Homo sapiens: one gene and its partners. The protein of the gene in region 2 purifies or fractionates together with the protein of the main gene of each other region. This does not show direct contact. Each region holds a gene or a part of one and is shown on either strand. Other genes may lie near its edges. The genes, in order: FKBP10, RCN2, ADCK5, OPA3, ZNF304, ZNF546 and PRELID3B.

The links.
Region 1: the proteins of RCN2 (region 2) and FKBP10 fractionate together in Homo sapiens (co-fractionation; one large-scale study listed by BioGRID). This does not show direct contact.
Region 3: the proteins of RCN2 (region 2) and ADCK5 purify together in Homo sapiens (co-immunoprecipitation; one large-scale study listed by IntAct). This does not show direct contact.
Region 4: the proteins of RCN2 (region 2) and OPA3 purify together in Homo sapiens (co-immunoprecipitation; one large-scale study listed by IntAct). This does not show direct contact.
Region 5: the proteins of RCN2 (region 2) and ZNF304 purify together in Homo sapiens (co-immunoprecipitation; one large-scale study listed by IntAct). This does not show direct contact.
Region 6: the proteins of RCN2 (region 2) and ZNF546 purify together in Homo sapiens (co-immunoprecipitation; one large-scale study listed by IntAct). This does not show direct contact.
Region 7: the proteins of RCN2 (region 2) and PRELID3B purify together in Homo sapiens (co-immunoprecipitation; one large-scale study listed by IntAct). This does not show direct contact.

The regions. Positions count from the first base shown.
Region 1 is NC_000017.11:41,816,004-41,819,503, reverse strand, and holds part of FKBP10 (peptidyl-prolyl cis-trans isomerase FKBP10 precursor), read right to left. Parts: intron 2,447-3,500; coding exon 2,301-2,446; intron 1,416-2,300; coding exon 1,226-1,415; intron 1,123-1,225; coding exon 977-1,122; intron 295-976; coding exon 105-294; intron 1-104. UniProt on the Homo sapiens protein: PPIases accelerate the folding of proteins during protein synthesis.
Region 2 is NC_000015.10:76,951,821-76,954,893, reverse strand, and holds the end of RCN2 (reticulocalbin-2 isoform a precursor), read right to left. Parts: 3' UTR 501-3,073; downstream 1-500.
Region 3 is NC_000008.11:144,377,047-144,380,546, forward strand, and holds part of ADCK5 (uncharacterized aarF domain-containing protein kinase 5), read left to right. Parts: intron 1-350; exon of another isoform or gene 351-444; intron 445-2,340; coding exon 2,341-2,444; intron 2,445-3,500. UniProt on the Homo sapiens protein: The function of this protein is not yet clear. It is not known if it has protein kinase activity and what type of substrate it would phosphorylate (Ser, Thr or Tyr).
Region 4 is NC_000019.10:45,550,303-45,553,802, forward strand, and holds part of OPA3 (optic atrophy 3 protein), read right to left. Parts: coding exon 3,212-3,500; 3' UTR 1-3,211. UniProt on the Homo sapiens protein: May play some role in mitochondrial processes.
Region 5 is NC_000019.10:57,349,993-57,354,070, forward strand, and holds the start of ZNF304 (zinc finger protein 304), read left to right. Parts: upstream 1-1,278; 5' UTR 1,279-1,672; coding exon 1,673-1,705; intron 1,706-2,662; exon of another isoform or gene 2,663-2,743; intron 2,744-3,732; coding exon 3,733-3,859; intron 3,860-4,078. UniProt on the Homo sapiens protein: Acts as a transcriptional regulator and plays a role in gene silencing.
Region 6 is NC_000019.10:40,017,560-40,021,059, forward strand, and holds the end of ZNF546 (zinc finger protein 546), read left to right. Parts: 3' UTR 1-3,479; downstream 3,480-3,500. UniProt on the Homo sapiens protein: May be involved in transcriptional regulation.
Region 7 is NC_000020.11:59,036,287-59,039,786, reverse strand, and holds part of PRELID3B (PRELI domain containing protein 3B), read left to right. Parts: intron 1-1,152; coding exon 1,153-1,321; intron 1,322-2,506; coding exon 2,507-2,596; intron 2,597-3,026; coding exon 3,027-3,097; intron 3,098-3,213; coding exon 3,214-3,316; intron 3,317-3,500.

The DNA of each region.
Region 1 (3,500 bases), on a different chromosome or scaffold from region 2:
AAGGGAGTCAAAGGGGCCCTCCCCTTCCAGGCAGCTCAGAGTGACCCCCAGCTTCGTCCACGTTTCACCCAGCCCCCGCCCTCCCACCTCAAGACCCTCCTGACCTGGAATCGAAGAGGGTGCCGTCCATCAAGGAGCCATTGTAGTGGTAGCGCATGAAGTCCCCGGCCCCGGCTCTGCGGACACAGCCGGGGGGGAGCTCCAGCGTCTCTAGCTGGACAGCGTCCTTCGGGTTGTGCACGTCAATCAGGAGGACGTGAAAGACCAGCGAGGCCTGTGGGGGGATCACTGTCCCTGGGGAAGGGATAGGGCTTGAACCATAAAATTGGGGAGCAAGCCGAGGCTCCTTCTTGACTCAGGAAGGCCCAGTGGGCACCATGCAAGACACTAGCCCCACTCTCCAGAGCCCTTTCCCGCCCATCAGCAGCCCTGCTTCTTGCTCCTCCAGTAAGACCTGAGCTGGGTTTTCCCCAGGGCCACCACCGGCTCATACTGAGCCTTCGTGTGAATCAGAATAAAGCACCCCTTCTTTTTTTTTTTTTTTTTTTGAGACAGAGTCTCGCTCTGTCACCCAGGCTGGAGTGCAGTGGCGCGATCTCGGCTCACTGCAAGCTCCGCCTCCCGGGTTCACGTCATTTTCCTGCCTCAGCCTCTCCGAGTAGCTGGGACTACAGGCGCCCCCACCACGCCCGGCTAATTTTTTTGTATTTTTAGTAGAGACGGGGTTTCACCGTGGTCTCGATCTCCTGACCTCGTGATCCTCCCGCCTTGGCTTCCCAAAGTGCTGGGATTACAAGCGTGAGCCACCACGCCCGGCCAAAGCACCCCTTCTTAGTAGCACCAAGGGTAGATTTCATCCCACCTTGAGTCCTTGGTTGGATGCCCTCGTGCAGTATACAACCTGAGCAACTGTATGTGGAGGCCTGGTTTTTCCCTCTTCTGCGGAATTTCCCCTTGTGTCCTTGCCCACCCTCACCATAGCCTTTCTCGCCATAGGCCAGGAATGGAGGGATGATAATCTTCCTTCTCTCTCCAGGACACATGCCCAGCAGCCCCTGGTCCATGCCCTTGATCAGCCAACCAGAGCCGACGTAGGTGTCATAAGTGCCGCCCTTACTGTAGCTGCAGAAAATGAGGTGGAGGTGGGAGAGGCAGGCTGGGCCCCGGATTCCCGCTCCCCATGCCACAGTCCCCAGTGCCTCAGGGCTCCCCTCCAGCCCCTCACCTGGTGTCGAAGGAGGTGCCGTCCAGCAGGGTGCCATTGTAGTGGTAGCGGACAAAGTCGCCGTCCTGGACCATGCGGGGGCAGTGGGGCGGGCGCAGCAATGTGCTCACCTGCACGGTGTCTTCCTTGTTCCACACATCCAGCAGAACCACATCGAAGTAGAGGGTGGCATCCGGTGGAATGAGCCCCGCTGTGAGAGCGCAGCAGCGTGGAGGTCTCAGAGTTCTGCTCTGCCAACCACGATCCCAGCCAGGGCCCTGTTATTCCCCTTCCTCTCATCCCAGCACCAAGAGACCCAAACCAGGGACAGAGATGCCACTATTTTTGTTTTTTTTTTTTAAGAGATAGGGGGCCAGACACAGTGGCTCATGCCTGTTATCCCAGCACTGTGGGAGGCCAAGGCAGGTGGATGGCTTGAGCCCAGGAGTTCAAGACCAGCCTGCGCAACATGGCGAAACCCCATCTCTACTAAAAATACAAAAAATTAGCCACGTGTGGTGGTGTGCACCTGTAGTCCCAGCTATTTGGGAGGCTGAGAGGGAGGACTGCTTGAGCCCAGGAGGCTGAGGTTGCAGTGAGCCGAGATCGCACCACTAAACTCCAGCCTGTGCAACAGAGTGAGATGCTGTCTCAAAAAAAAAAAGAAAAAGAAAAAAAGAGGGGTTTTGCTCTGTCACACAGGGTGGAATTCAGTGGCATGATCATGGCTCACTGCAGCCTCCCGGGGTCAAGCAATCCTCCCACCTGAGCCTTCTGAGTAGTTGGGACTACAGGCACACACCACCACACCTGGATAATTTATTTTATTTTTTGTAGAGACGAGGTCTCACTATGTTGCCTAGGCTGGTCTGGAACTCCTGGGTTCAAGCAATCCTCCCACCTCGGCCTCCCAAAACTCTGGGACCATATATGTCAGCTACTGCCCCAGCCAGAGCTGCCACTCTTCATACTGCGTGCACAGTGTGACATTGGGCAAGTCACTCCTCATCTCCGCACTTCAGTTTTCTCACCCCAGGATCCCTGATTCTGCCTCGTGGTCTCCTCCACCCCCGGCCTGTGCCCCAGCCCTTCTCACCCAGGCCGATGCTCCCATAGCCCAGGTGGGGAGGCACAATGAGGCGTCGCCGCTCGTTGACACACATGCCCATGAGGCCTCGGTCCATGCCAGTGATGAGGCGCCCCACACCCACCACGATGGCCACCAAGGTGTTGCGATCATAGCTGGGGGGGGAGGGACAGATGGGATACAGTGACCTCAGACACACACACACTGCCCATGGTGGCACAGATGCACAGGTGTGCCTGCACACACGCACACAATCCCCCCTCCCTATAGCCAGGTGTGGATACGCACACACACTTCTCACCTCCTTTTCAAGTCCCCCTCCTAGGTCGGCCGTGACGCCCACCTTAAGAGAACGGACTGTTGTGAAAGGCAAGTCCCTGAGGAGGACAAGGGCTGCTATTGCCCTGGGACGGGGTTGGGTGGGATGCCCGGGCCTGATGGCTGCTACTATTTGCTGACAGCAAGTGGGGAGTGGTACGTACAGCACGGAGGGGCAGAGGAGCATTACTATATGGGATTAAATGCTTGGCATTTTACATTCCGTATCTTCTTTGTCTCCCCTGTGAGGTGGGCATTCTTGTTCTCATTTTTCTTAATGAGAGCAATGGAGACTTGAGAGACTCAGTGCCTTGCCCAAGGTCACACAGCTAATATGTAGTCAGCTGAGTTCTAAAATTTGCCATTATACTATTGGCTCTCCAAGAAAAGACGGGAGAGCAGAGGTGGGGTGGGAGCTGGTTTCACATTTTGAAAAGGCCTATTCTACAATCCTGGCTAACACAGTGAAACCCCGTCTTTACTAAAAATACAAAACATTAGCCAGGTGTGGTGGCGGGCGCCTGTAGTCCCAGTTACTCAGGAGGCTGAGGCAGGAGAATGGCGTGAACCCGGGAGGCGGAGGTTGCAATGAGCCGAAATCGTGCCACTGGACTCCAGCCTGGCGACAGAGTGAGACTCCCTCTCAAAAAAAAAAAAAAAAAAAAAAGCCTATTCTAAAAGTGCCATGGCTTTTGTTTGTTTTTAGTTATACACTTTTAATTAATGTATTTATTTTTACTTATACATATGTATTTTTGGAGATGGAGTCTCGGCTCTGTCACCCAGGCTGGAGTGCAGTGGTGCAATCAGCTCACTGCAACCTCCACCTCCCGGGTTTAAGCGATTCTCCTGCCTCAGCCTCCGAAGTAGCAGCTGGGATCACAGGCATGC
Region 2 (3,073 bases):
GACAGGCCAGCAGCTGGCACAAAAAGACCTTAGTTTATGCTTTTAGTGTGTCATTGTAATGGAACAGTCTCTCTACTTAGGTTACCAATCACTGCTAATGGTACAATAACTGAGCAAAATGTTGATGCCCTCTGTTCATTGGAACCTGGTCTCAGAAGAAAAATATCTCTGTGGAACAGAAAGCAAAAGTAGGGTTTTTTTCTTTAAGGTATGAAAAATCATGATTAAAAGCTATGAGATTTTTAAAAATCCCCATAATCACTTTAAAATAGTTTTATAAGCTCAAATGGTTTCCTTTCTACAGCTCAGGAACTAACTGGTTAATTTGAGATAAAGATAGGGCAAACTGTAGGTATTCAGCAGTACTTGTTTTTTTTGTGCTTGGATTGAGGTGTTTCCCCCCCCCCCCGCCAAATAAAATAGAGACGTTTTAGTAGCTGCACTGGAGGCCCTTAGGTAATTGGTTACTAGTTATAAAAAATTTTATAGCAGGCAGGAAATCTGGCCAAATATTTATTCGACAGAACTCAAATGTTGCAATGAAGCAAATTAGTTTTTACAGTTGTTTAAAAACTTTTACTCTAAGTGGCTTTCCTAAATCATCTTCCTAAGTGAAAAAGTGTAAGTTTGAGTTGACATTTCTCACTCAAAAGGAGGTATTGTAACACAAAAACGTTTGAGAAACAATAGCATACATTTATCCTCACATTTAAATTGCAAAGGAATGATATTCTGGAACAGGCAAAACTGTAGAGACAGACCATTAGGGAAATGCAAATCAAAGCCACAACGAGATACCACGTCTCACCCAACAGGATGGCTACTATTAAAAAAAAAAAAGAAAAAAAAAAAAACAGAAAATAGCAAGTGTTGGTAAGGATGTAAAGAAACTGGAACTCTTGTGCACTATTGGTGGAAATGCAAAATGGCACAGCTGCTGTGGGAAACACTATGGCAGTTCCTCAAAATATTAAAAATAGAATTACTAGTCGGGCGCGGTGGCTCACGCCTGTAATCCCAGCACTTTGGGAGGCCAAGGCGGGCGGATCACGAGGTCAGCAGATCAAGACCATCCTGGCTAACACGGTGAAACCCCGTCTCTACTAAAAATACAAAAAATTAGCCGGGTGCGGTGGCAGGCGCCTATAGTCCCAGCTACTCGGGAGGCTGAGGCAGGAGAATGGTGTGAACCCGGGAGGCGGAGCCTGCAGTGAGCCGAGATCGCGCCACTGCACTCCAGCCTGGGCGACAGAGCGAGACTCCGTCTCAAAAAAAAAAAAAAAAAAAAAAAAAAAAAAAATATATATATATATATATATATATATATATATATATATAGAATTACTATATGATCCAGCAATCCCACTTCTATGTATAATATATATCCAAAAGAACTAAAAGCAGGATCTCAAAGAAATATTTGTACACCCATATTCATGGCAGCATTATTCACAATAAAAGGTGGAAGCAACCTGTGTCCATCAAAGGGTGAATGGATAAGCAAAATGTGGTATATGCAAACAATAAAGTATTGTTCAGCCTGACGAAAGAAATTCTGGTAACAATATGGGTGAACTTTGGGGACGTTATGCTAAGTGAAGCCACTCACAAAAAGACAAATACTATATGAGTCTATTTTAATAGACACAAACTAGAATGGGGCTGGGCGCGGTGGCTCATGCCCGTAATCTCAGCACTTTGGGAGGCCGAGGCAGGTGGATCACCTGAGGTCAAGAGTTCGAGACCAGCCATGCCAACATGGCGAAACCCCGTCTCTACTAAAAGTACAAAAATTAGCCGGGCGTGGTAGCGGGCATCTATAATCCCAGCTACTTGGGAGGCTGAGGCAGGAGAATCGCTTGAACCTGGGAGGTGGAGGTTGCAGTGAGCCGAGATCGCACCACTGCACTCCAGCCTGGATGACAAGAGTGAGACTCCGTCTCAAAAAAGAAAGAAAAAGAAAACTAGAATGGGAGGCTGGGCACGGTGGCTCACGCCTGTAATTCCAGCACTTTGGGAGGCTGAGGCAGGTGGATCACCTGAGATCAGGAGTTCGAGACCAGCTTGACCAACATGGTGAAACCCCATTTCTACTAAATACAAAAAATTAGGGGGCATGGTGGTGCCCGCCTGTAATCCCACCTAGTCGGGAGGCTGAGGCAGGAGAATCGCTTGACCCCAAGAGACAGAGGTTGCAGTGAGCCGAAATCATGCCATTGCACTCCAGCCTGGGCAACAAGAGCAAGACTCCATCTCAAACAAAAAAACTAGAATGGTGTTTGCCAGGTGCTGAAGGGAAGGGGAAAGGGGGCTTTATTGTTTAATGGGTATAAATTTCCGTTTTACAAATGAAGTTCATGGAGATGGAAGGTGGTAATAGTTTCACATTTTGACTGTATTTAATACCATACCACCGAACTGTACAATTAAAAACTGTTAAGATGAATTTTGTTATGTGTATTTTACTACAATCTAAAAAATTATGAACAGTAAAAAGATCAGTATTGCTTGGGGTTACAGGGAAGGGAGGGATGAATAGGTGGAGCAGAAAGACTTTAGGGCAAGGGAAATATTCTACCACACTACAATGGTGGGAATATGTAATTATACATTTGTCCAAACCCAGAGCATGTGCAGCACCAAGAGTGAACCCTAATGTAAACTATGCACTTTGGGTGACAATGATATGTTAACAGTTTCATCGATTTTAACAAATGTACCACTCTGGTAGGTACTATCTCATGACATATAGGATAGGATAGTGGGGGAGGCTGTACGTATGTGGGGCAGGGGACATATTGAAACTCTCTATACTACTTTTTGCTCAATTTTGCTGTGAACATAAAACTACACTAAAAAAAAAAAAAGCCTATTTTTAAAACTGCAAAGGAAAGAACTAAGTAAGGCAAACATGATATGCTAGCTTTTCCTCTGAACGTCCTGGCTTCCTTTAAATTTATATCATAATCTAGACATCATTTTCTGTCCTGCAAATTGGCCCAATCAGAACTACATATGAGCCAACATGTGCACATCCCATTCAATTTTCCCCTTTGAAGTTGTACCTGAACTC
Region 3 (3,500 bases), on a different chromosome or scaffold from region 2:
AGTTCCTTACTAGGTCCAGTGTTGAGGACCATGTTAGCGTCTGTGCCACGGGGCATGACTGGCTATGCACAGTCCTTTCCACCCAAACCGTGACTTGTGTGAAGAGCTCTCAGTTGGGGAATTTGGGGAGTTGTGAGACCTCATCCTAGGTCAAGTGTGATTGGGAGACCAAGGTTTCCAGTGAGAGCTGTGGTGTTTTCTTTCTTTTTTTTAATAATACTGTAAGTTCTATGTGGTGTTTTCATAGTCACAAAAATAAAGCAGGGCCATGTGTCAAGAGTCTCATGGTGGGGCTTCTTTATTTATGTATTTATTTTTCTAAATGGAGTCCCATTCTGTTGCCCAGGCTGGAGTGCAGTGTCTCAATCTTGGCTCACTGCAATCTCCGCCTACCAAGATCAAGCGATTCTCCTGTCTCAGCCTCCCAACTACCTGGGATTACAGGTATGCGCCATCACACCTGGCTACTTTTTTTGTATTTCTAGTAGAGACAGGGTTTCGCCATGTTGGCCAGGATGGTCTTAATCTCCTGACCTCATGATCCACCCGCTTTGGCCTCCAAAAGTGCTGGGATTACGGGCGTGAGCCACCGCGCCTGACCCTTGGGACTTCTTTACGTGTGTCCTGCTAGCTGCAGCATGTCCTCTTCTCCTCCAAGTAAAAGATGTACAGGGTCCCTGTCTGTGGGGTCTCAGTAAGTTGTAAGTTTCTTCATCTGCTTTCAGAACAGTGACCTACGTAGGCCACTCCTCCCATCCGGGCGTCCACCTTCAAGGTTGGCGTCTGCTGTATGATTCCATGGCTGGGCACTGTTGCCACTTCCTTCGGAGATGAGGACTGCTTTCCTCTGGCCACTGGTCAGTGGTCTCAGCAGCAGGAAATAGTAAAATAGTAAATGACAGGTCAGGGTGCTGCCAAGAGAGTGCAGGGGCAGGGATGGGGTGGGTCCCATCCCAGATGAGCCAGATGGTGATGCCATCTCTTCCTGCAGAGACTGAGGGGACATTCAGAGACGGGGTATGTTTGATGCCCTGTCAGCATCTGAGGCATCAGCCCTGGTTAAGCTGCGTTTAGCCTTCTCTCCTATGATACTTTGACACTCAGCCTTGCTCCCAGGAGGTAGGATAGTGTTTCCATTACGGAATCAAAGATGGGAACCTGGCTTCCTGGCATGATCCCAGCGGTGCTGGCAGTCTTTGCTGACTGACTTGGTGATGTGGTTTGGCTTTGTGTCCCCACCCAAAGCTCATCTGAGTCGCGATTCCCAGTGTTGGAGGAGGGGCCTGGTGGGAGGTGATCTGGTCATGGGGGCAGATTCCCCCTTGCTGTTGTGGTGATAGTGAGTGAGTTCTCAGATCTGATGGTTTAAAAGTGTGTGTGGCACTTTCCCCTTTGCCCTCTCGCTTGCTCTCTCTCTCTCTCCGCCCCCCCCACTGCTTCACCCATACTGTGCTTGCTTCCCATTTGCCTTCTGCCATGACTGTAAGTTTCCTGAGGCCTCTCAGTGGTGCTTCCTGGACAGCCTGCAGAACTGTGAGTCAGTTAAACCCAGGCCAGGTGCGGTGGCTTACACCTGTAATACCAGCACTTTGGGAGGCTGAGGAGGGCAGATCACTTGAGGTCAGGAGTTCTAGACCAGCCTGGCCAACATGGTGAAACTCCGTCTCTACTAAAATACAAAAATTAGCTGGATGTGGTGGCGTATGCTTGTAGTCCCAGCTACTCGGGGGGCTGGGGCAAGAGAATCACTTGAACTCGGGAGGCGGAGATTGTAGTGAGCCGAGATTGTGCCATTGCACTCCAGCCTGGGCGACAGAGTGAGACTCCATCTCAGAAAAACAAACAAACCTATTTTCTTCATAAATTACCCAGTCTTGCTTGGGTAGTTCTTTTTTTTTTTTTCTTGAGATGGAGTTTCGCTCTGTTGCCCAGGCTGGAGTGTAGTGGCGCGATTTCAGCTCACTGCAACCTCTGCCTCCCGGGTTCAAGCGATTCTCCTGCCTCAGCCTCCCGAGTAGCTGGGATTACGTACATGCACCACTATGCCCAACTAATTTTGTATTTTTAGTAGAGACGGGGTTTCACCATGTTGATCAGGCTGGTCTCAAACTCCTGGCCTCAGATGATCCACCCGCCTCGGCCTCCTAAAGTTCTGGGATTAAAGGTGTGAGCCCCTGTGCCCGGCCTGGGTAGTTCTTTAGAGCAGTGTGAGAATGGACTCACACATTAGGTTTAGAGTTAGGCTGCCTCAGACTCCAGCACATGTAAGTGCTGGTACTGGTTGAGGGCAGGGGCGTGTCCTGGCCTCGTTCGACCCCACACAATTTCCTCTCTTTGCAGGTGCAGCTCTGTCATTTCCACTCTGCTCTGCTGCACAGCAGGCAGAAGCCCTGGCCGTCCCCTGCTGTGTTCTTCAGGAGAAACGTCAGGGGCCTTCCTCCAAGGTAACGAGTCCTCCACGGGCATGCGCCTCTCACCCAGGCAGGCATGGATGGCGTCTGTGTGCATGCAGAGGTGGCAGTCGAGGGCCCAAGGCTGGACCTTCTCCTGTACCCACAACCAAGGCAGGATATGTTTGCTCCTCAGTGCGGTGCACTGGGACCAAAGACCCCCAGGGACCCATGGGACCGTGCTCAGGGGTGGGCACACCCTGATCACAGCATTTAGAGCAGACAGCTAGCAAATCGGGAAGGGTGCACATGGAGCGCCTGCTCTGAAGAGCAAACCGGGTCATTCAGAGCATGGAGGAGGGCGGGGTGACTATAGGTGGGAGTCACACAAGAGGAAGAGCAGCAAGAAGAGATGTGGAGGGATGGGTCTGAGCAGAAGGAAAGGCCAGACAATGTCCTGAGGCCAGCAAGTCCGGACCACAGTGCGCAGATGGACGGTGGCAAGGCAGGAAGGCCGTGGAGGGTAGATGTGGCCAGGCAGGGCAGGCAGGGTGAGCTGTCCAAGCGCCACTGGCTCAGTGAACCTGGCAGGGGTCTCCTTCTCCCGAGAGCTCTGCAGTAGGACAACCTGTGTCCCTGGGACAGATGCGGCCAGCTACAGAAACAGATGGGTGCTCAGGCGCCTGCGGCTGGGTGCAGAAACAGATGTGCACTCAGACACCTGCTGCACTCAGGATTATGGGCCGGGTGTAGAAACAGATGTGTGCTCAGGCACCTGCTGCACTAAGGATTATGGGCCGGGTGTAGAAACAGATGTGTGCTCAGGCACCTCCCGCAGTCAGAATTATGGGCCGGGTGTAGAAACAGATGTGTGCTCAGGCACCTCCCGCAGTCAGAATTATGGGCCAGGTGTAGAAACAGATGTGTGCTCAGGCACCTGCCGCAGTCAGGATTATGGGCCGGGTGTAGAAACAGATGTGTGCTCAGGCACCTGCTGCACTCAGGATTATGGGCTGGGTGTAGAAACAGATGTGTGCTCAGGCACCTGCTGCACTCAGGATTATGGGCTGGGTGTAGAAACAGATGTGTGCTCAGGCGCCTGCTGCACTC
Region 4 (3,500 bases), on a different chromosome or scaffold from region 2:
GGCCCTCCCACTTTCACCTGCAGCTTCCCAAAAGCGGGCCCAGGTGGAATGGTCACCCAGTTTACACAATGCTATGATCTCTGGTGTGATCTGGGGCTGCTCTGAGAGGGGATAGAGAGGGTCTCCCACTATCAACGCCACCTCTGGGATGGTCTGGGCCTCTGTGTAGAGATCGTCACCCTCCCAGCCTCTGCTCAGCCATCGCCTCTCCCTCCTCACTCTGCAGCTGGGGTAATCCAAGCCTCTCACTCTGCCCCTACTACTTCACCACCCTGGGCAGTCAGCCCCTCACTGGCTGTGGCATCTCTGGCAAGTCCCTTTGCTTACCCCTGGCCTTAGTTTCCCCAGCTCATAGGGTGACTCTTGGGCCTCTCCCCATCAGAACCCTCCCAGTTTCCCTCCTGATTTTAATAAGCTCTGTACCCATTGTGGAGATCCACATGGTGGTTCAGGTACAGCCTCAGGATGCCTTCATCACCTTGCAGCTCCTCTAATGAGAGAGCTACAGTCGGAAGGACAGACTGCAGGCTACTGGGACCCACCCCCTCCCGCTTCAGTGGCAGATCCTGGAAGAGAAACCCAGTAGAAAAGGGTGGTTCCTAGACTGTTCCTCTCAGCTAGCAGGAAGGCCAAATGGCCCGCGGGGTTGGCAGGAGTCCCAGGGTACTTTTTTTCTGAGAAAGGGTCTCACTCTGTCATCCAGGCTGGAGTGTAGTGGCGCGATCACGGCTCGCTGCAGCCTCGACCTCCAGGGCTCAGGTGATCCTCCTGCCTCAGCCTCCCAAGTAGCTGGGACTACAGGCATGCATCACCGCACCTGGCTAATTTTTTATTTTACTTTTGTAGAGATGGGGTCTCACTATGTTGCCCAGGCTGGTCTTCAGCTCCTGGGCTCAAAGAGATCCCTCCTGCCCTGGTCTCCCAAAGTGCTGGGATTACAGGTGTGAGCCACTGCACCTGGACGCCAGCGTACTCTTGGGGTGAGGAGGAATAGTGGGCTGAATGGCTTGAATGGTGTGCCCCCAACAGACAAGTCCACATACTAACCCCCAGGACCTGTGCTTATGACAGTTTATTTGGAAAAAGTGTTTTTTCAGATGTAATTAAGGGTCTTGAGGTGGGATCATCCTGAACTTAAGATGGGCCCTAAATGCAATGACAGGTGTTCTTGTAAGAGACAAAATAGAAGAGGGAAAAGGCCATGTGAAGCTGCAGGCAGAGCCAAGGAAGGCCTGGAATCACCAGGAGCTGGAAGAGGGAGCGTGTCCCTGTCAGCACCTTGGTTTCAGACTTCTGGACTCCAGAACTGTGTGAATTAAATTCCTGTTGGACTTAAGCCATCAAGTTCACCACCCAATGGTGATCTGTTATGGCAGTCCAAGGAAATTAATCAAGCAGTTAAGGCCAACTGCTGGCCTAATTGGTAGGATGGGGGTGGGACCGGGGGCTATGGAGGCAGGAGGGTACTGCTACATGAAGACAGGCTGTCGGGTCAGTCCAGAGCTCCGAGGAAAGAAAGCAAGAGCACACAGATTAGGAGACACGGATGGAAGATGAAGGATGTGACAATTGAATCCATGGGCTTGGATTCGACTGGGTCCCTGAGAAATGCTACTGAGCAAGGTGGGGAAGGCAAGAAAGGACATGCCACACAGTACAAGCTCCAGGGACTCTGAGGACAGGAAAATAGGGGGCTGAGGCTGAAGGACAGGCTGGATTAGCCCTAGTTAGGATCAAATTTCCCACCACGGAAAGGGGGGTTGGAGGACATTCACAGAAAAGATCCTGTAGTGCCATTCCAGTGGGTTGTGCCATAGACTCAAGGATGAGGGGGTTCTGTTGGAATAGTCCACTTCGGGTCTCAAGGGAAGGTACAATGATTCCAGGGATTGACTGCAGGCCAGGACCTTTTGTGGGTTTTTTTAAGATGGAGTTTTGCTCGTTACCCAGGCTGGCATGCAATTGCGCAATCTCGGCTCACTGCAACCTCTGCCTCCCGGGTTCAAGCAATTCTCCTGTCTCAGCCTCCCAAGTAGCTGGGATTACAGGTGCATGCCACCATGCCCAGCTAATTTATGTATTTTTAGTAGAGACGGGGTTTCATCATATTGGTCAGGCTGGTCTCGAGCTCCCGATCTCCCGACCTCCCGACTTCAAATGACCCGCCCACCTCGACCTTCCAAAGTGCTGGGATTGCAGGTGTGAGCCACCGTGCCCAGCCAGGATTTTTTTTTTTTTTTTGAGACACAGTCTTGCTCTGTCACCCGGGCTGGAATACAGTGGTACAATCTTGGCCTCCACCTCCCAAGTTCAAGCAATTCTCCTGCCTCAGCCTCCCAAGTAGCTAGGATTACAGGCACCCACCACCACGCCCGGTTAACTTTTGGTTTTAAGACGGTGTCTTGCTCTGTTGCCCAGGCTAGGGTGCAATGGTGCCATCTTGGCTCACCGCAACCTCCACCTCATGGGTTCAAGCAATTCTCCTGCCTCAGCCTCCCGAGTAGCTGGGATTACAAGCGCACCCCACCACACCCGGCTAATTTTTGTATTTTTAGTAGAGACGGAGTTTCACCATGTTGGCCAGGCTGGTCTGGAACTCCTGACCTCAAGTGATCCGCCCGCCTCGGCCTCCCAAGGTGCTAGGATTACAGGCGTGAGCCACCGCTCCCAGCCGCACCGTTTTTTTCCTCCTTAAGAGAGCACTGATGCTCAGCTAGAGCTGACCTTAGAAGGTGAGGGGGAGAAAAGGCCACTGCAACACACTGCATTTCCTTACAGTGGTCTGTGCCGATTGACAAAAAGAAGAAGGTGTTCCAGTGTAACAGATGAGTGTCCCAGTAAAGGTTAACACTGATCAGGTAAACCGGGGGTGGGGGTAACAATAACACATTGATTCAGCTCAAGACCAGGTTCCATTTTTTCATTTGCCAGAGTGCCCACGGTGTCCTGCTGGCTGGGACCTTGCAGGTCGTCCTGGTTTGGAGTGGGGGATAGGAGGTGAAGGATGATGGAGGGGGCTATGTTGCAACGCTTCACCTGCTGGTCCCAGTGGCAGGTAACGGCTGCTCTTATCAGCAGGGGTAACCAAATGCCAAGTTGCATCAAGATCCTGGTGGTTTCCACTGGGCCAGCGCAGGCAAGGGTGGTGCGGGAAGAAGGCCACGTTAGGTACATAGGCCATGTCCAAATTCAGGTTCCATCCAGCAAGCTCCTATTTCTTGGACGCAGGCACTGCGTGGGAAGCGGACCGGCCGGGATTGCAGAGCTGGGCGCGCACCTCTTGCAGCTCTGTGCGCAGTTCCTCCAGGGCGCCCTGTGGCGGCGCCGCCTGCACCTGCGCCTGCAGCGCTTCCAGCGCCAGCGCCAGGTGGCCCACCTCGTCCCGCAGCGCGTTCCAGGCAGCACGCTGCTCCTCCTCCTTGTGGCGCTGCTGCGCCTGGTGGCGCCAGTACTCCAGCACTAGGCAGCCGCCGCCCACGATGAAGATGGTGGCTTCGCCC
Region 5 (4,078 bases), on a different chromosome or scaffold from region 2:
CCATCTCTACTAAAAATACAAAATTAGCCGGGCATGGTGGCGGATGCTTGTAATCCCAGCTACTCGGGAGGCCGAGGCAGGAGAATCGCTTGAACCTGGGAGGGAGAGGTTGCAGTGAGCTGAGATCGTGCCATTGCACTTAAGCCTGGGCAACAAGAGTGAAACTCTGTCTCAAAAAAAAATTATAACTATTATCTATGATGCTATTTGATGAGTGAGGGAATAATTGTACTTTTTTCTTTTTTTTTCAAAATCACACTGATCCTGAAAAGGTGGATCTTTGATTTATCTTCCTAAAGCAGTGTATGTGAGAACCTTGTGTTGAGGAAGACTGATAACAGCTTGTATGTATTTAGCACGATGTGCCAGGCCTGGTGTTAAGTACTTTTTACCTCACTTCCCATATTCCTAATGAGGTTGGTTGTAGTGTTTTTCATCTTACTGATTTTTTTTTGTTTGTTTTTGTTTTGTTTTGTTTTTGGCTAATGACTTTAAAAGACCTCCAGTTCTTGAACTTCAGCTAGGGTCCCATCCCCAGAGTTTATCAGAAGGTATAGGTTGGGTCCAAGAATTCACAGGTTTTTTAAGTTCATAGTGAAGCTGATGCTGTAAAACTACATATCAAATTGGGAAGCAATGAATTAGAAGAGGCTCATGTTTTCGTCATGTTACATGTAAGTTCCTCCTTCACTTTTCGCCATGAATAAAAGTTCCCTGTGGCCTCACCAGAAGCAGATACGGGCACCATGCTTCCTGTACAGCCAGCAGAAAGGTAGCTAATTACATCTCTTTTCTTTATATGTTAGAAAAATTAGAAGGACATTCAATGTTTTACAAAAAGGCCCACAAACGAAATACAGACAACGTTCAATTTATTAATACGTTTCAATCCCCAAATCTGAGAGAGGTGAAGCAGGTTTCCCAGGGCCTCAGAAGCAGGATTGAAGAATGGGTCCCTTGCTGGCGACTTCAGTGGCGTGGCATTGTCCCAGGTGGCCATGGAAATCAGGGTGCATACCCTTTAAAAGCAGCTGTGGCCTCCGAGATATCGTTTTCCCAGTCTTTTCTCCCCCTCCCTGCACGACGCCTCTTGGCAGACATCCGGGAGAACCCGAAAGGCGCTCGTTGCCTGGTTGGATGCAGGGTACAAACTACGTTACCCAGAAATCTGTGCCCAGCTCATTGTTAGCCGGCGTGCAGCCAATGACAGCCCAGAAACTGGGCGTTTCCTGCTGCTCTGGGCTGCAGGGGCGAGACTTCTGGCGTCGCCGTCGTGACGTATTTTTCCTATGCCCGGTCCGTGCATTCTGGTTGTGAAGGCTGAGTTCTAGAGATCGGGTCGGCTTTCTACGCGGCTCTCGTGGAACCTAGCAAAGAAAGACAGTGAAGACTGCAGGACCTTCCTTCGCGCTTTTGTTACAATCCATGACCCCTGTCGTGGGACGGGCGGCCTCTCGCGGAGGTGTCTGCCGGGGCTGGGCTCTTACCGAGGCCTCCACACACGTCCTCTTGTCCTTGTCTCCCCCAGAAGCAGCCGCCTTAGTCTTGTGAGCGTTTTTACACCGGGTAGATTGAGACTTGGAGTGCTACACTCAGCCCGAGGGCGTCCAGCGCGGTGGAGGCGTGGGGTTTCGGCTGAGCCCACAGGGCACAGACTGTTCATCCGCTTCTCATGGCAGCGGCGGTGCTGATGGACCGGGTTCAGGTGAGTGGGGGCATCCCTCAAGCGCACCCCGGCCTGGTTGGTGTGTCCTGGGATGTTCGCTCTCATCGCGCACTTCAGGGTGCTCACTCCGTCGCATTATGTGGAGGGGTTCCGCTCCCCTCATCAGTGGCATAAGGTGTGGAACGGACTCGAAGGCGCAGGGGCAGTTCGTACAAATGCATGCATGGAGAGGAGAATGAGTTTGGGGAGTTCCGGGAACTCTCTGTGCCTGGTGAGAACAGGGACTAGGGGGTCAGAGGTAGGCCTGGAATGGCCGCCCGAGGAGCTGGTCCTCTCTTCTGAGGGTGCTGGGAGTCATGCAAGGTTTGGTACAGAGAAGGGAGGTCCTCTGACGCAGTTCTTAAAAGGCTCCCTCTGGCTGCAGAGTGGGTAGACTAGGGATTATAGGGTAGACGGGGAGATCAAGATGAAGTCTACTGAAATAGTCCAGGTGAGCGTTGATGGTCTGGGCCAGAGTGGTGGCAGCAGAGGTTAGAGAATGTATGGGTTTTGGGTTTTGTATGTATTTTATAAGGAAGGCTGACCAGATTCTCTGATGAGACATAGTGATGATATCCTGGGATTCTTCACATGACTGTCTTCACTTGAGACAGGGGGCAGTGAATGGAGGTCATTTCTAGTTTAGTGTCCTGAATCCAGGCCATGAGTTGTATGGAGTTATGTGGAGAAGTCCCCACCTGGCGACCAATGGGATGAGTACTGCAAAAGTATATCAGACCTAGGAACAGGTACGCTCAAATGCTTGTAGGATTGAGTTTGGAGCGCTCAGGGAATCTCAGGTCTTAATTACCTTTGTTGGAAACAGGTATCAGAGGAAGGAGTTAGGCAGGAATGGCTGGCCGAGGTGTCTTGAGTGTGGTAAAAGTCGTGGGAGATTTGGAGCAGAGGAGGGAGATGATCTGACTCAGATTTTAACATGCTCTCTCTGGCTTTCAGGTTGAGAACAGACTGTGAGCATGAGGGAGCAGCTACTGCAGTAGTGTTGATGGTGTCTGGTCTAGAGGTGTGGCTGTGGAGGTGAGAGAAGTTGGTAAATTTTCTGTTTTTTAAAGTAGGGTGATTGGATTTTTTGATGCGAAAGGTGAAAGAGAGGAGAGTCGTGGATGACCCTAAGGTTGGTTTGTTTTTGCTGTAGCTGGTAAAATTATGAAAATGCCATCAACTGAGATAGAGAAGTTGGCAGCAGGTATGATTTTTAGTGGTTATATCAGGAGTTAGGCTTTGGTCATGTTTAGGTTAAGAGGTCTCAGTTGTCATCTTAGTTGAGGCCTCAGGAAAACACACAGGTTTTTAGTTCTGGGGAAGGGTTCTGTTGAAGAAGTTGAAAAAAATGGTGGCCAGTGTGTGGAGTGGGATGGGGTATCTTCAAATCATGGTGGTAATGCTGTTATTCAGTAAGAAAGTTGAAACTGGACACTGAGAGAAAACTGGGTCTGTTGCTTAGGCACCTGGACGGCAGTGGTGGATAGTGTGAAGACGCGAGCGCTTCCTGGACACTGCTTGCAGAGTGGCATGGGGGATGAGGGATGTCATGGAGGTGCATATGGCATGGGCCAGTGGCGGTGGGGATCTCAGATGTGAGGAAGGTGTAGTCCAAAGAGTAATGAGCACGTTGGGAGGAGTGTGAACTGATGCCCTTAAGACTCTAGTATTGGCAGCTCATGGGAGAAGATGGAGCTGAAGTTTGGTTGTGTTTAGAGGCATCGTCTGGACAACACCAGGAGAACTGGTTGGTAGGCGAGTATTTGGGACCCTTCATGCCAGACCCAGAGTTGAGACAGCATCTGTCTGCACACTTGCCTGGTTCTGCTCTGGGCTGGACACAGTGGTGAGAGGGACATGAGGAGAGAGCAGACACTAGTGGTGCCAAGGTCTGTTATCTCCTCTTAGTTGGGAGGCTGGGGAGGCGAGGGACTAGAGAGTGGGTGTGTGAGTGTGTAGACTGGGGAGGAGGGGGTTCTGGGGAGAGATGCTGACTGTGGACTCAGCTGTACTTATCATGGCAGAGTTGTGTGACCTTCGAGGATGTGTTCGTGTACTTCTCTCGGGAGGAGTGGGAACTCCTTGAGGAGGCACAGAGATTCCTGTACCGTGATGTGATGCTGGAGAACTTTGCACTTGTGGCTACACTAGGTAAGTCTGTGTTTTAGTTATCTAATGCTACATGGCAAATTATCCCAAAGCTTAGTAACTGCAAACAATAAAAATCAATTATCTCTCCAGTTTCAGTGCATTGGTAATCTGGTTAGAGCATTTTTTGTTGTTTATTATTTTGAGGGTTTTTTTTTTGTTTTTTGTTTTTTGTTTTTTCAGAGAGTCTTACTCTGTCACCCAGGCTACAGTGCAGTGTTG
Region 6 (3,500 bases), on a different chromosome or scaffold from region 2:
AACCTGTCTGTGCCCCAGGGCAGCTTTGAATGCAGTCCAACAGAAATTTGTAAGCTGTCTTAAAACATGAGATTTTTTTTGTGATTTTTTTTAAGCTCATCCGCCATTGTTAGCACATTTTATGTGTAGCCCAAGATAATTCTTCTTCCAGTGTAACCCAGGGAAGCCAAAAGATTTGACCCCCAGTAACTTCACACCTAAGGAGATTAGCAATAATTCCATAATCTGTAATATTCAGTCTGTGTTCATATTCTCAGTTGTGTTCATTCTTTTCATTTGTGTAAACAATGCTTTTCATAGGTTATTTTTAAATTCAGGAACCAAATTCATGAATTACATTTGTGCATTGTTCGTCTCTTTTAAAGTAAGAATGGCCCTTCCCCCCACAACTTTATTGCAACATTGACTTTTTTTTTTTTTTTTTTTTTTTTTTTTTGAGATGGAGTCTCTGTCGCCCAGGCTGGAGTGCAGTGGTGCGATCTTGGCTCACTGCAAGCTCCGCCTCCCGGGTTCAGGCAATTCTGCCTCAGCCTCCCCAGTAGCTGGGACTACAGGCGCCTTCAACCATGCCCGGCTAATTTTTTGTATTTTTAGTAGAGACGGGGTTTCACCATGTTAGCCAGGACGGTCTCGATCTCCTGACCTGGTGATCTGCCCGCCTCAGCCTCCCAAAGTGCTGGGATTACAGGCATGAGCCACCGCACCCGGCCTTCCCAAAGTATTTTTAAATGTGCTTTTTTATCCCCAGTATTTCCCATTAACTGGAATTTGGGATTAGAGACCCAATTAGGGACAGATTAAATATTTTGGCAAGAATACTTAATGGGAGAAATTTTGTATTTCAATTTGTAACCCATTAGGTGGCATACAATGTCATTATACCACTATGGTATCCTTAGTTCATTCACTTGGTGTAGCAGAACATACATTCCAAAGATGGCCACACCAATATATCCCATTCTGCATGTTCATCTTACAATGTGATACCAACACTCCCCAAGAGGTAGAGCTCATGGTCCTTCCTTTTGAATCTGGCCAGGTGGGCCTGTGTTTATGGCAGGAATAACACTGTGATTTCCACGACTAAGTCATAAAAGGCAATACAGCTTCTGCCTGACCCACTTGGGATGAAGCCCAGCCACCATGCTATGAAGATGCCAAGTAATCACATAGAAAAGCTAAGTAAAGCTGTCCTGATTACAGCTGTAATTGAGGTAACAGCCGGGATCCAGCACCAAGTGTATGAGGGTATGAGCCTTCAGATGATTCTAACCCTTAGCCTTCAGGCTATCCTAGCTGGTGCTAAGTGGAGCAGAGAAAAGCTTTCCCCCATGAGCCTGCCCAAATTGCAGATTTACGTTTAAAATATGGCCTGTTTTAAGCCACTAAGTTTTGGAGTAGTTTGCCACACAGCGATAGGTAACTGAAATACTTGCTTCATATGGTAATCACCAGGTTTCTCTGTTGTAGAGCTAAATATTTCTTTTAATTTAGTAAACGATCTGTAGAGTAGTACTTTGGCATTTCGGAAATTTAAAATCTCCAATAATATAATGACACTAGATCAAAAAGAAAATGAAACCATAAAGGACAATTTAGAAATGAATGGTAAGATCAGAATTTGTGAATGTGGCCAAACCTGTGCTCAGTGAAAAATCAGTAACCTGTTAATATATTCAGGAAACAAATATTGAGGGCCAGCACTTTGTTTCTCCTGCTCACCACTCTACTCCCAGTGACTTAATACTGTCTCTTTAACATAGTAATCACTTATAAAACTGTTAAAAGAATGAAGAAGCATTAAACTCAAGAAACTAAGGGAAAAATAAGTCAATATAAGAAAGAAGGGAGGATCATTAAAAGGAGTTAATGAATTTGAAAATAAAATAGACTTATTAAGGCTTTGTGAAAAAATATTAATACTTGATTTTAGTATAGCTAATCAAAGGAAAAAGATAATTACAGCATTGTGAATGAGAATTGGATGTAAGTACAGATGGAGGAGATATTTTTTGTTTTATTGAAAATTTCAAGGAGGAAGTAATATCAAAATTTCACTAGCTCTTTCTACACTGATATTATAATCCTGATAATACAACAGATGAGGATAGTTCTTAAAAGGCAAAAATGTAGGTGAGTCATTACGAAGAAAGCAGAAATTCTAAACCATCAGCACATTCATTCAAAAACCTAGTAAAGCAATTAAGCAAAATAATTTGTTTACTTGGACTGTCCAGGGATAGATCTGTTCTAGTTTTCCAAATTAATGATGGGAAAGGAAGAGCTGATCCAGTCCAAGTATCTTCAAGATCCATGTTCTCAGTTTTTCTTAGCTTTAAATGGCCAAATTGTGGCTTAGATTGGATATGATAATTTCCTCAATGCTTAACACTGAGCACAATTTTTCACATATTTGAAATCAAGGTGTATCTTACAATTTATGGCATCTGACAATACTTCCAACCAGGTGGCAGTCATCAAGCAGTTTTGTGAAAAGCCTTCCCGGTAAGAATACAAAAGCATCTGCACCAAAATATATAGATTTAATGGCATGTAGGGGTTTGCGTGAATATATACAGTTGAAATTCAATTCTTCCTTAAAAATAATTGTAACTCATTTCTTTAAGACTACCATACTACCACTTTCCTCAACTTGGACTAATGTCCATTGTCAACCAAAATGTCTGTGATCTCATGGATCCATTATGATTTGCAACTCCAGGTCCATTTTATGCAAATAAGACAGCCATAATATATCATTGTACAAGTCATTTACTATCTAATTATATCATTGCTCAACATTTGCAAATTATTTTTACAAATAACAATAATTGGATGTAACAAAAAGCAGAGTATTTTGAGACGTATATTAATGCAAAATATTGTTAATGTATCAGTGGATTGTTCCTCCAAAGTACCAGTGCCTTAACACAACATATCTAAAAGAACATCTCTGGGAACAGTAGTACTTAATGGCAACTTGAGAATTGGTTTGTGGGCACACAGCCTTGTGAAGTTTTGAATACTAAATCCCTTTTTTAAAAAAGTGCTTATTATCAGGCTATCAATCAAAAGATTTGAGTCTTTCAGTAAAGAAAATTTGCTTAATTTTATCTAGTGCATGATAAACTTTACTAAGGAAGTCTCATTCAGAATATCTAATATTTTGGATGTGAGCCCACACTGGAAATGCCATAACCAAAAAAGAGTGACCCTAAAGATAGAATATTCAGATCTAATGGCAGATGCTTAGCTATGCTGGGAAAGGAAGTGAATTGTATATTGCTCTGCTGCTCACATATTCCTCTGCAATAAATTGCTGGCCCAGTTTAGTTTTTATATACTCACTACTATACTAATGAGGATGGCTCAATTTTTTATTTGAACGTACTATAATGAATTTAAACTTTCATTGGTATTTATGTTTTAACAGGTTTTCACTATTTCAAATATACTTCAATAAATATCCTTGTCTGTGATCATTGGTTTATGTGAATTGG
Region 7 (3,500 bases), on a different chromosome or scaffold from region 2:
TTCTGGGAAATTAATGGAGTTGAGATTTTCCTTTTGTCAACGAGATGTAGTTGTCAATCTGAGTTCTCTAAAAGGTTGGAATAATGTCTACTTGTTTTACTTTTAGAAAAATAAAAAGTAATGCTGTGTGGCTTAACAGTCATTGTGGCTTGAACATCATCCCCAGATCTTGTCTTTTTCCTTTAAATGAAGATGAGAGCACAGATAAGTAGTGTAGAAAGCATCCGAATCAGACTGCAGGTGGACTAAGTCACCTTTAATACTGATTGTACTTAATAAGGGGTCCTTTTGAAAATGATATTTTTTGTACAAGTGTCTTATTCACAGAAGTTGTGAAGTGAACAAAGGTTGCATCACATTTTGAATCATCCAAGCACATGTGCCTTTTTGAAGAAAATAAAGATACTGCAAGTTCTCAAGTGATGTGATATTATTACCACTTCAATACTAGGTGATAAGCAAGTGCTTATTATATTAAAAGAGAATATTAGAAAATAGTATATTAGGAGTGCACCTTAAGGACATTTTATTATATTGAGTGACCTTTTCAAAACAGAAATCAGAATCACTCTTTTGAGAAAAACAGTAGATAAAGATTGACTGGAGGAGCCATTGTTATGTATTACATTAAAATGAAGGGAAAGTTCAATAATTAAATCAATGCTTTGGATCTTTTTGTGATCCCTGTAAGAATTTATAGTGCCCATAAACTCTTTTACTTTTGTTACTTCCGTATAAACTGATAGAATTGGGGTCAGAAAAAATAATAAATGGCATAATGATACTTTTGGCTATTTGTTTCAGTAGAACATAATTTTTAAATACATTTTCATGAATCATTGGTTCTTCCTAGAAACAATTTACATGTGAAAGTGGATAAGGATAAGTAGGAAAGATGGTGTAGACTGCTTTGATCTTTATAGATATGAGTTTTTTTACATAGCCTGTATTGTGGAAAAATACTGAAGCCTGTTAAAAATGTAGATCAGTTTCCCATAATCATCAGTGTTTCAGAAGGTAATTTTTCCTAGGTAAACTCATTAAACTTACATTGTAATGAATGATTTGATAGATTATAAAAATTGTTTAACTCATATGCATAATTTTAAATGTCTGAATTTTTTTTTTTTTTTTTTTGGTTCACATCGGCAGCCACCCGTGGGAAACTGTTACAACAGCTGCAATGCAGAAATACCCAAACCCTATGAACCCAAGTGTGGTTGGAGTTGATGTGTTGGACAGACATATAGATCCCTCTGGAAAGTTGCACAGCCACAGACTTCTCAGCACAGAGTGGGGACTGCCTTCCATTGTGAAGTCTGTAAGTGTGTCTTTATTCCCGGAGAAATGTGACTGCTGTAGAGAAGTTTTCTAAACCGCATTATACTTTCAAATAGGTTGTGGGAGCCGATTCTGAATGTCATTTTTTGCATCCGTTCAAGTTGTATTATAATAAACTTGAATTATGAGTGTATAATGAATTGGAAATATTATTACAGTCTTCATGAAGGCACCCAATAAAATTTTCTTAAGGAAGCCAGCTAATGCCGTGTGATCTGAAAGGAGTTCTATTCTGCTTTTTCTGCTTTTGCCAGCAACTTGAGACCAATACTAAGGTTTGGCAGTAATGGTCTGGTCATAATTGTTAGGTGACAGTTCTGTGGTCAGTGGTGGGTTGTGTACATTAAGTAAGGACTATGTTCTCGGACTTGTTATTGCCACATTTGTTCCAAGGTCTGGAACTCCTTCCTGTACATTTAGAAACAATTCTATTCCCTTAAGAATGAGCAGGCTTTAGTGAGCAGATTTTACCAGGAAGAAACTAAAATGCCAGTTTACCATAATGCGAGAAAACTGGTATAATAAGTGGATCCAGGTTTCTTTAGAGGGTCTCTTTATGGAGAGTAGGTTCACTAAGAAAACTAAAGTACACATTTTCAATAGGAATGTACTTACTGCCTCCTTATGCAAACCATAGTGCAGACACAGAAATGAGCAGGGTCAGGGGGTGGGCTTGGGGTCATAGCACAGGGAGTGACAGTGGACACTGACGTGTGAGCCTCCATCGTAAGAACGCTGTTTTTCTGTCTGGAGAATGAAGCTGAGGTGCCCCCTCCCTTGGGCTGTTCTAGGAAGATACTGACAGATGCCTTTGAGTTCTCCTTTTTCTAGCTGCCATGTTGCCCCAAACCTGATTTCCATATCTCAGCCTCAGCGCTCCACCGTCGCACCGCGGCAGATTCAGCGTGCTGCCTCACGTTGCAGACGTTCTCAGTGGGCTGGTTTCTAATTGCCTCCGGGAAAAGTTTTTGTGTCTGGCAGTCTCCTCTCATCCATGATATGTGAATAGGCCTCCTTTCTGACCTTTGCTTGTTTCCTCTGGTTTTTAGAAAACAGATTTTTGGTTCAAAATATTGTAACACATTTTTTCCTTCAAATAAAATATTGATAGACTTGGTAAGAAATTCTTCCTCCTCTGATTCCTAGTTCTGAATGTTTTACTTAGCTTATTGGTGCAGCAAGAACGAAAACATATGTGCAAGAACATTCTGTAGTTGATCCTGTAGAGAAAACAATGGAACTTAAATCTACTAATGTAAGTCTTGGCTCCCTTTTGTTTCATTTCGAACTGTCTGGCTGAGTTCTTTGTCCCTCTCCTAGTTGCCGTAGAAGTGAGTGCGTGTTCATGATGTGGTTCAGAGAATCCCTGCTTATGTGCTGGCCTAACTTGGCCCTGGATGTTGCTTCCTTACCCTTCCTGCTCTCATGATCTTGCCTATCTCTAAGGGGATAGCACTCAATAAAATGAGTTTGGGATTATGTGTATTATCATTATTATACTTTATTTCCTCAACTTTGCTTTTTAAATAAAAAGTAGGCAGTGAATAGTTTATGCAATAATAGCAGCGGTTTATTTGTTGTTTTGTATGTTTAGTAAGATTTTGGCTTGTGTGTTGATTTTAGCAACATTTTGAATCTTCAGTTCCAAAATGATTTGATCTTTTTTTTTTTTCTTCATTCTGTAGATTTCATTTACAAACATGGTTTCAGTAGATGAGAGACTTATATACAAACCACATCCTCAGGATCCAGAAAAGTGAGTAAAAAATATTTTAACAAATGTATCGTAAAGGGTGTTTAAGGTTTTTTTATCAAGTTTTTTGAAAATGAAAGCTGGGTCATCTGAACCTGTGTGAATATGTTTTGTTCCAGAACTGTTTTGACACAAGAAGCCATAATTACCGTGAAAGGAGTTAGCCTCAGCAGTTACCTTGAAGGACTGATGGCAAGTACGATATCCTCAAATGCTAGTAAAGTAAGTGAGGCTGCTTCTTGGTTATTATTCCCTGGTTCATTTCCTGGGAATGGAATGGGGTGCTGACTGCATGTGTGTCCTTGTAAGCTGACCCTTGCCCATTCTACCATAGGAAACTGCAGCACGTTGGGCAGTTACTTACAAAGGCTCTGGGTTCACATCCAAGCTCTAACTTTTAGCCTTT